2 separate regions of the Homo sapiens genome follow, and region 2 is linked to region 1. The links come from fine-mapping of genetic effects on gene expression. A gene starts in region 1. The other region holds a variant in brackets. All regions are shown on one strand. Distances are between the middles of the regions. Region 1 holds the start of CHCHD10 (coiled-coil-helix-coiled-coil-helix domain containing 10). Region 2 overlaps SMARCB1 (SWI/SNF related BAF chromatin remodeling complex subunit B1).

Region 1 (4,376 bases):
CACACTGTAGTGAGACATCCATCCTGACCCCACCTCATCAGCCAGGGAGCTCCCTGAAGACAGGCCATCGAGAGAGGCACACAACAGGCTGTGGTCTAAAATAAACTTTTAATTGCACATTTGTGTCTTGGGTTATCTGTGGGGTGAGAAACCTCCTCACTTCCAATCCCAGCTATCTGGGTACAATCTGGTGTTGTGGTCTGGCTGTCGGCGAGGGGTAGAGGTGGGTGCAGGACTGGCCCCCGAGTCTGCACCGACCTCTTCAGGGCAGGGAGCTCAGACCTGGGAAGGGAGGGGCAGCACAGGCTGGTGGTCAGCCTGCAGGTGCAAGAGGAGGGTTGGCCTCTCCCCCTCCCCGCCTGAGTCGGGGTCCACTCACTCACCATGGTAGTACTTGCACTGCTTCAGGGCCTCGCTGAAGCCCTCACACAGGGACAGGTCACTCTGAGTGGTGGAACAGTCCAGGAACTGCCTGATCTCGTAGGCGCAGGGCCCCATCTGCAGGGGCTGGGGGGCAGCGGGGGTGGGGGCCTGGGGGTACAGTGCAAGAGGCTGCAGGATCAGCTTGGAGTTGGCACCTGGAGGTGCGTTTCAAACCTGGGGCCACCTGCCCCTCCCCACATCCCCAGCCTGGGTGTCCCAAGGGTCCTAGGCAGGCTGAGTGATCCAGCAGCAGAGGCGGCTACAGACAGCATGTTTCTGCTGCCTTTTTTTTTTTTTTTTTTTGAGACAGAGTCTCACTCTGTCACCTAGAGTGGAGTGCAGCGGCGCAGTCTCGGCTCACTGCAACCTCCGCCTCCCGGGTTCAAGTGGTTGTCCTGCCTTGGCCTCCCAAGTAGCTGGGGCTACAGGCGCCCGCCACCATGCCCAACAAATTTTTTGTATTTTTAGTAGAGAGGGGGTTTCACTATGTTGGCCAGGCTGGTATCGAACTCCTGAACTCATGATCCACCCGCCTTGGCCTCCCAAAGTGCTGGGATTACAGGCATGAGCCACTGCGCCTGGCCTCTGCTGCCTTCTAATGGGCACTTTGGGCGGGTGCAGGAGAGGGAGGAGAAGGCTCTAGGAAAGCCCAGTACTCTGCCTGTACTCTCAGAGTATGAGCCCCACCCCCACAAGTTCTAGCACCTTCCTGGCTCAGCTACACTAATCCTCATGACCCCTGACCTAGCCACAAAGCCACATTTGGCTTACGGCGGTGGGGTTCCTAGCAGGGGAAAGGTCATCAGGGAAGTGGCTCCCCTTCGCCCTTGCGCCCAGCGGCCACAGTGCCCAGACCTGGGTGTGGGGAGAACAGGGGCTCAGGAAATCCAACATCCCTCCCCTCTGCTAGGGTGAGGTGACCTTGGGCGAGTCTCTGAGCCCTCAGGGCCTGGGTTTCCCATCTTTAAAGGGCTGGTTGGTGTCTCTCCCTGGGAGCTTAGGGACCCTGGCCTCAAGGGAGAGGCCGGGAAGCCTGCCTCTAAGTGACAGTGAACTCAAGACCAGTGGACTAGGACCCTTCCCGGGCAGAGTCCTGGGCTGAAGCAATGGTGAATACACGCGGACACTCCTCACTGGACACTTGGGCAGCTCCCTGTGTGGCCTCGAGATAATCCTGCCTCAGTTTCTCTTGGACTCGCTGCTCACCTGCTGGACAGCAGGCTGGGAGGGCTCCGAGCTCCCCCCGCTGAAGGCTCCGGTCAGGGCGCTGCCCATGACGTGTCCCACAGCCGAGCCCACGGCTACCCCTGCGGCCGTGGTCGCCATCTGAGCCATGAGCCCCGGCTGGCCCGAAGGGGCGGGGGCTGGGGCGGCTGCCGAGGGCGGTGGGTGCGCGGGCGGGTGGGCAGAGGGCGCGGCTGGGCGGCTGCGGGGGTGGGAGGAAGCAGGGTTAATCCTGGCCAGACCCCAGGCTGGAGGGCTGCAGCTCCTGGAAACGACCCCCGGAGAGATGGACGACCCACGTCTCCACACGTGGGTGCTGCACCCCCACCCCTCCCCCCGCCAAGATGGCGCAGCAGCAGCCAAGGTCACTCTGCGGACGCCCTTAGGGGAGTGCCCACACTTCCCTAACCCCCTCCCCACAGGGCCCTTGTCCCCCTCACACCTGGCTGGCCGGGAGGCCGCGCTGCGGCTTCCCCGAGGCATGGTGGCGGCGGTGGGACCCGGGCGACCTTAGAGACGGCGGCAGCGGTGCTGTCGCGGGGACAAATGCCGCAGCGCTTGTCACAGCCGGCGCAAAAAAGGCGGGGCCCCGGGCGGGGCCTCAGGAACACGCCCCCAGCGGGAGGCGGCACTGCCCCCAACCCTATCCCCCTTCTCCCGTCCTCCGGACATCTCCCTTCCAGCAGCTCCGGGTCTCGGCTGGAAATGGGACCCTGCTCCCTCCCTGCGCCTGGCAGGCTGTGCGGGTTCTGGGGACAGGGGCCAGTGTCGCAAAGCGCCGAGGGCTTAAGGAGGGCGACAGTGCCTTCTGTTAGGACCACCGCAGAGGGCAGGGAGCGGAGTTGGGGGTTGTTGCGAGCCCTGGAGGGGAGAGGAGACGGGGAGGCGACGGGATGGGGCCAGCTGGGAAGGGGACGCGAGGCTCCAGGCTGGACTCCGCTCTCTGCCCCCTCCCGGACTCGGCTGTCTGTCCCCTCCCTCCAGACAGGGTCTGCTGACCACCGCGTGGCCTGGGAGTCTCCGGTGGCCTAGGGAAGTGAAGCGCGGCCCTGGGGAAGGCCTGGAGCAACCCATCCCCAGAACTCCCACGAGGGGGCGTCCCAACCCGTCTTCGACTGTTGGCCAAAATGCGCTGCCAATGCTGGCAGCCTTACGCAGTGCCCGCGGGGGATATGAGGCCCCCCGCGCGGCCCTGAACCCCACCGGATTCCCCGGGCCGGCCCGACCGCCCCCACCTAGTCCCTGGCCCCGCGAGTGCAACCCCCGACACTAACGGCCTTTACGCGACATCCGAGCAGCGTGTCTATCCCAAAGGCCTAGGAGCATTTGCCCGGCTCGGTCAAATCTAGCGCAAGTTTGAAGCCTGCGGCCTCGCAATTTTAGCAGCTTCGTTCCAGGCCAGGTGAGCTGGAGCGCGGATTTAGAATGCTTTCCTGCTCTTCGAGAACTTGAGGTTTTAATTTTACTTTTTACTTTTTTTTTTTTGACACGGAGCCTTGCTCTGTCGCCCAGGTTGGAGTGCAGTGGCGATCTCGGCTCACTGCAACCTCCACCTCCCGGATTCAAGCAATTCTCCTGCCTCAGCCTCCTGAGTAGCTGGGACTACAGGCTCGTGCCACCACACCTGGCTAATTTTTGTATTTTTAGTAGAGACGGGGTTTCACCATGTTGGCCAAACTGGTCTCCAACTCCTGAGCTCATGATCCTCCTACCTCAGCCTCCCAAAGTGCTGGGATTACAAGCATGAGCCATCGCGCCCGGCTGAGCTTGAGGTTTTTATGGTCTTTTCTGGGTGACTTTGCAGTGGTCATATTATTACTCCTAGGTGGGGGAAGGTAGGGACTGTCCCTCATCACTGCTGTGCCTGCAGAGGACTCCTGACACCGGGATTGTCGGCAGGGTGCAACCAAGAGCAAAAGCACCCAGAAGTGGGGGTGTGGGTCACCAAGTAAGAGAGGAGGCCCCTCCATAAGGAAGGAGCAGGTCAAGGGGCAAGGGGAGTGGTGGCTGGGGCGTTTGGCCCTGCCTGGCATGCTCAATTCTGTGTGTGCACAGCTGTCCCCAGCCATGCATGCTCTCCATGGAAGTCAGGTGCAGCCCTGTGTTCTCTCACACTGCAGTCCTTTCAGCCAGCCTGTGAACAGGGCCCTTCCCCGCCCTGTCTTCAGTTTCTCCTCTCTGAAGGGGGGTGACCACCCACCTTGAGGGTGGCCTCCCAGTGAGGTGAGCACACCAAGGGTGGGCCATTCTTTCCTGGCAGACTCACCAGGCCTGGTCCAGCCGCTACTCCCTTGTTCATGCAGTCCATGCCACCTGGTTCCTGTTTGCCACACCAAACAAACTGAACACTTCTCATGGTGGTCCCCGGGCCTAAACTGCAGAGAGTTGTTACTTCAGCTCCCATGGCTGATGGACTGCAGGTTCCACAAAGCATGGCCTTGCACCTCGGAGGCACCCAAGACCACTTAAGTGGGTTACACAAATGAAAATGAGGCTGAAAGGATGACACTGAAGCAGGCATTGAAATGCCAACTTTTTTTTTTTTTTTTTTTTGAAACGGAGTCTTGCTCTGTCGCTCAGGCTGGAGTGCAGTGGTATGATCTCCACTCACTGCAACTTCTGCCTCCTGGGTTCAAGCGATTCTCTTGCCTCAGCCTCCCGAGTATCTGGGACCACAGGCACATGCCACCATGCCCCGCTAATTGTTTGTTTTTTGTTGTTTTTTTGTT
Region 2 (4,376 bases), 24 kb after region 1:
TTCCTAAGTTCTGAAGGGGCTTTGGGGGGCATCTAGGAGACTCAGAGCCCTGCAGGGCCTGCAAGGTAGTCATAGGGGGGAGTATTGTCAATTTCTTTTAAAAAACCTAATGGAAACTCTACATTTACCATGATACTGGATGATACTGACACACAAGCCAAATAACATAGAGGGGTCTGTGCCCTCTATGTGGAAAGCGAGTGACTTGCTGTGTCTGCTCTTCTCTCAGCGTTCAGTAGCCCTGGTTGTTGATTACAGTCACTGCTGAAAATGGAGAAACATTTTATTTAATACTATGCCTGGGTCTCACACCTATAATCCTAGCACTTTGGGAGGCCCAGGCAGGAGAATCACTTGAACCCAGGAGTTTAAGACCAGCCTGGGCAACATAGTGAGACTCTTGTCTCTACAGATTTTTATTTTTATTTTTTTTAATTAGGCCGGGTATGTGGCTCACACCCGTAATCCCAGCACTTTGGGAGGCCGAGGTGGGCAGATCGCTTGAGCCCAGGAGTTTGAGACCAGCCTGGGCAACATGGTGAAACTCCGTCTCTACAAAAAATACAAAAATTAGCCGGTTGTGGTGGCAAGCAACTATAGTCCCAGCTACTCAGGAGGCTGAGGCAGGAGGATCGCTTGAGCCGAGGAGTTCGAGGCTGCAGTGAGCTATGATCGATCGCACCACTGCAATCGAGCCTGGGTGACAGAGCGAGACCCTGTCTCAAAAATAATAATAAAAATTAAAAATAAATTTAAAAATGCAAAATATATACTATGTTGCGTAGATAAAATGGGAAACATAATAGAAGTGGTCCTTCATGGGGGTGAAGTTCAGAGTTGCTGAGCATTTGGCAGATGAGTAAAGGGTACCCAGAAAATGGGAAGTGATCCCAGGTTACAGATGGAGCCAGCACCTGGCACCCAGTCTATTGGCCATCCCCTGCAATGTGACTCCGAAGTGATCATACTTGAAAAGTCAACGAGACAATAGGGTACCCTCATAAAAACTTTAGGTCTAGATTTATTTTCCTTAAGGAAGTCACACTTTCAGTATTTGCTACAAGCAAACTGAAGCCATTGTTTGAGTCAGTGATGATTTATATAGCAGTCTGGTGATTGCCTTGTAAACCTTTTGGAAAATTCCTTTGGTATCCCTGGTTTGGGTTTTGTTACTAAACAAAGCAACACAGGCCATGGGGGAAATTATCTGGCATCTGTCTAAAATTAAAAGACCTTTTTGGTGTTTATTACATTGTAAAGATATCAAAGTCTTGTCCTTAAGATAAAAGAAGGTCAAGGAGGCCTTGCATTTCTGGAAAGTGCCAGAGATCCTTAGTCCAAAATCAAAATCACCACGAACTTCTTGCTAAGCTCTGGGGGCCTCCCACTCAGGCATCTGCCCAGGCCTTTCGGAACTTGGTTCTGTTGTCAGGATGCACATATGCAGGCCAGATGTGCACTGCTGGTGAACCCTTCATATCAGCAGAATGTGTTTTAATGCTGCCGAAAGCGTGGCGCCTGGGGGCCACCTCAAGGCCTGTTTGTCTGTTGCTTGATGCAGTCTGCGCCAGGACCCTCCCCTTCCCTGTGGTGCTGCGACCCTTATAATGAGCCTTCTTGCTTTACTCATAGGTGGGAAACTACCTCCGTATGTTCCGAGGTTCTCTGTACAAGAGATACCCCTCACTCTGGAGGCGACTAGCCACTGTGGAAGAGAGGAAGAAAATAGTTGCATCGTCACATGGTAAAAAAACAAAACCTAACACTAAGGGTGCGTCTTCACGAGGGTTTGTAAACCTGTTTCAAAACCACTCGCTTATGTCATGAAGATAAAACGTTTTCACTCCAGAGTGTCTTCACTGCAGCCTTGGCCTTAGTCGGGCAGGGAGCATCCCGGGGTGGGCCGCCCTGTGAGCACTCCAGGCAAGGAAGTGGCTCCAGGGAGCCATTGGTGGTCCACTGTCAGTTATTTCCAGCAGGGCCATTGGGTATGTGAGCGGGCCGGGGCCAGGACACTAGCAGGTGCTGTGAAGACATGTTGGTCTCAAAACGTTTTAGGAATGCTGCGATGCTCTGCCATCTGTCGTGGGTGTGTCGCCATAATCATCTTCCATGCAGCCCAAGTGGCGGGTGGTGGTCCCAGCTCCCACTCCCCTCTGGGGCTTTCACTGCTTGCTTCCTGGAGCACATCCATCCCATAGCACTTCATCCTGGCAGCCAGTGTGCTAGAGCCCATGTGCATGTCCCTGCTCCTGGTGGCCTGCGTGTGCCTGGGGCTTGCTAGGTACACTAGTGAAACTAGTGGGCTTTGGGTCACGGCAGCTCTGTGCAGGGTGAAAGGGTGCTCTTCAGACACTCTGGGGGCTCTGTGGGAGACACTCCCATGGAGACATTTGGGTGTGGACACAGCATGTCCTTGGGCAGGTGGCAAAACTGCTTCCCACGTGGCAATGGCGCCTTGTAGAGAGCTGCCCTGGG[C/T]CTGGGTGTGTCTGTGAGCATGTGCGCGATGCTTCGTAGTCTGCCCTGTTTGTTTGTGTCTGTAGGTGCTGCTGTGGTTTTGTCCACTGCGGGAAAGTAGTGGTTCTTTTAATGCAGGAGCCGGAGCTTCTTTTTGATCTGCTGCTATGACATTTCCACTCACTTGCTTAAAACAGTTTCCTTTTTGTTCCCCCTCCTCCCCTAGCAGAGCATCAGTCGCTAACACAGTGAGTCCCCAGCTTTGCTTCCCCCTCCGCAAGTCCCTGGGCTAAGTCTTGGGAGATACCTTCCCCATAAGCGATTGATTTCTCCAGGAGAAGCCAGACTGGGCCCACAGACAGGTAGCTCTTGACGGAGATTCCCCGGAAGAGCTAGGGGTCGAGCTGCCTAGAATCTGTCCTGCTTCCCAGGCAGCACGTGTGGACCGGCTCGGGGATAGAAATTCGTGTTTGGTGTGAAGCAGCTCTTTCCAACTCTCTGGGCTCTTGTTTTAAAAGAAAAGTATTCTTCATCTTCCATTCCATCTCCCCACCTTGCATCGTGTTGTGGATTGTGGTGGTGTCAGACCTCTTCCCACTGGGGTGTTACTCTGGGAGCTTTCTTTTCCCCTGAGTGAGGACCAAGAGAATATGTTCTGGAGTCGAGTGTCCCCGCTGGTCGTGCTGTATTGTAGTTGCTGGTGCTGCCCTGAGCACTTCCCTCTGCCCCGAGCCAGTGCTCCTGGGGCAGATTAGTCCAAATCAGTCCCATTGGAGGCTCTACCCAGCAGGACTTGTAAGTAAAGCACTCAGTCCAGATTGCCCTTTTGGAAGAGGCCAGCATTCAGCAGTAGTAAGTTTGACACCTTGCTTTTCCCACCTCCCGCATGCGAGGACCTTGATGTGCTGCATCCACTTGGCTGGCTGCTGTGTGCCACCGCCACCAGCAGAGTGACCCAGTGATGTTTGTCTGTTACAGATCACGGATACACGACTCTAGCCACCAGTGTGACCCTGTTAAAAGCCTCGGAAGTGGAAGAGATTCTGGATGGCAACGATGAGAAGTACAAGGCTGTGTCCATCAGCACAGAGCCCCCCACCTACCTCAGGTAATGCGTTCCTGGCCAGGGCATCTCTGGGGACACCTGTGGGGTCTTTTCTGAGACTCAAGAACTGGTTGGGTTGAAGTTAAATTGAAACACTTTTTTTTTTTTTTTTTGAGATGGAATCTTGTTCTTGTCGCCCAGGCTGGAGTGCAGTGGCACGATCTTGGCTCACTGCAACCTCTGCCTCCCAGGTTCAAGCGATTCTCCTGCCTCAACCTCCCAAGTAGCTGGGATTACAGGTGCCTGCCACTATACCTGGCTAGTTTTTTTTTCTTTGAGACAGAGTTTCACTCTTGTTGCCCAGGATGGAGTGCAATGGCGTGATCTCAGCTCACTGCAACTTCTGCCTACTGGGTTCAAGTGATTCTCCTGCCTCAGCCTCCCAGATAGCTGGGATTACAGGCATGCGCCACCACGCCCAGCTAATTTTGTATTTTTGGTAGAGACGAGTCTCTCCATGTTGGTCAGGCTGGTCTCGAAACCCCACCTCAGGTGATCCGCCCGCCTTGGCATCCCAGAGTGCTGGGATTACAGGCGTGAGCCACCGCGCCCGGTCCTGATTTTTGTATTGAAACACTTTTTAACAGTTCCCTCTGTTTTTATACATTTTCTTAGCCAGGTTTCTAAGTTTCTTCTATATCATTGGAATTTCTAAGAAACGTAAGCCAAGTCCTGGATTCCGGAGAACAGTTACAAATGCTTGGAAAGTGGGACTCGTGGGGCACAGTGGCTTATGTTTGTAATCCCAGCGCTTTGGGAGGCCGAGGCATTGCTTGAGGCCAGGAGTTTAAGACCAGCCTGGGGCAACACAGCA

What was found. PIP is the estimated chance that this variant, and not a neighbour inherited with it, causes the effect. A credible set is the group of variants that fine-mapping cannot tell apart.
Region 2: its variant is the best candidate, but not a certain one, in a credible set for the expression of CHCHD10 in monocytes (BLUEPRINT, PIP 0.90).

Annotation. Positions count from the first base shown.
Region 1 is chr22:23,765,745-23,770,120 of GRCh38, forward strand. CHCHD10 (coiled-coil-helix-coiled-coil-helix domain containing 10) reads right to left here and starts at 2,228. Exons shown (of 4, transcript NM_213720.3): 1 at 2,090-2,228; 2 at 1,630-1,849; 3 at 384-531; 4 at 90-282. The coding sequence starts at 2,130. The coding sequence ends at 263. LOC107985577 (a long non-coding RNA gene) reads left to right here and starts at 2,482. Exons shown (of 3, transcript XR_007068022.1): 1 at 2,482-3,049. It overlaps C22orf15 (chromosome 22 open reading frame 15), which reads left to right. Exons shown (of 6, transcript NM_182520.3): 6 at 1-119. RefSeq lists enhancers at 1-565, 566-1,365.
Region 2 is chr22:23,790,124-23,794,499 of GRCh38, forward strand. SMARCB1 (SWI/SNF related BAF chromatin remodeling complex subunit B1) reads left to right here. Exons shown (of 9, transcript NM_003073.5): 2 at 1,633-1,771; 3 at 3,436-3,565. Among named protein-coding and RNA genes, the nearest start is that of SMARCB1, 5.3 kb to the left of the region's middle. RefSeq lists an enhancer at 2,195-2,695. The variant C/T (reference allele first, on the strand shown) is at 2,479.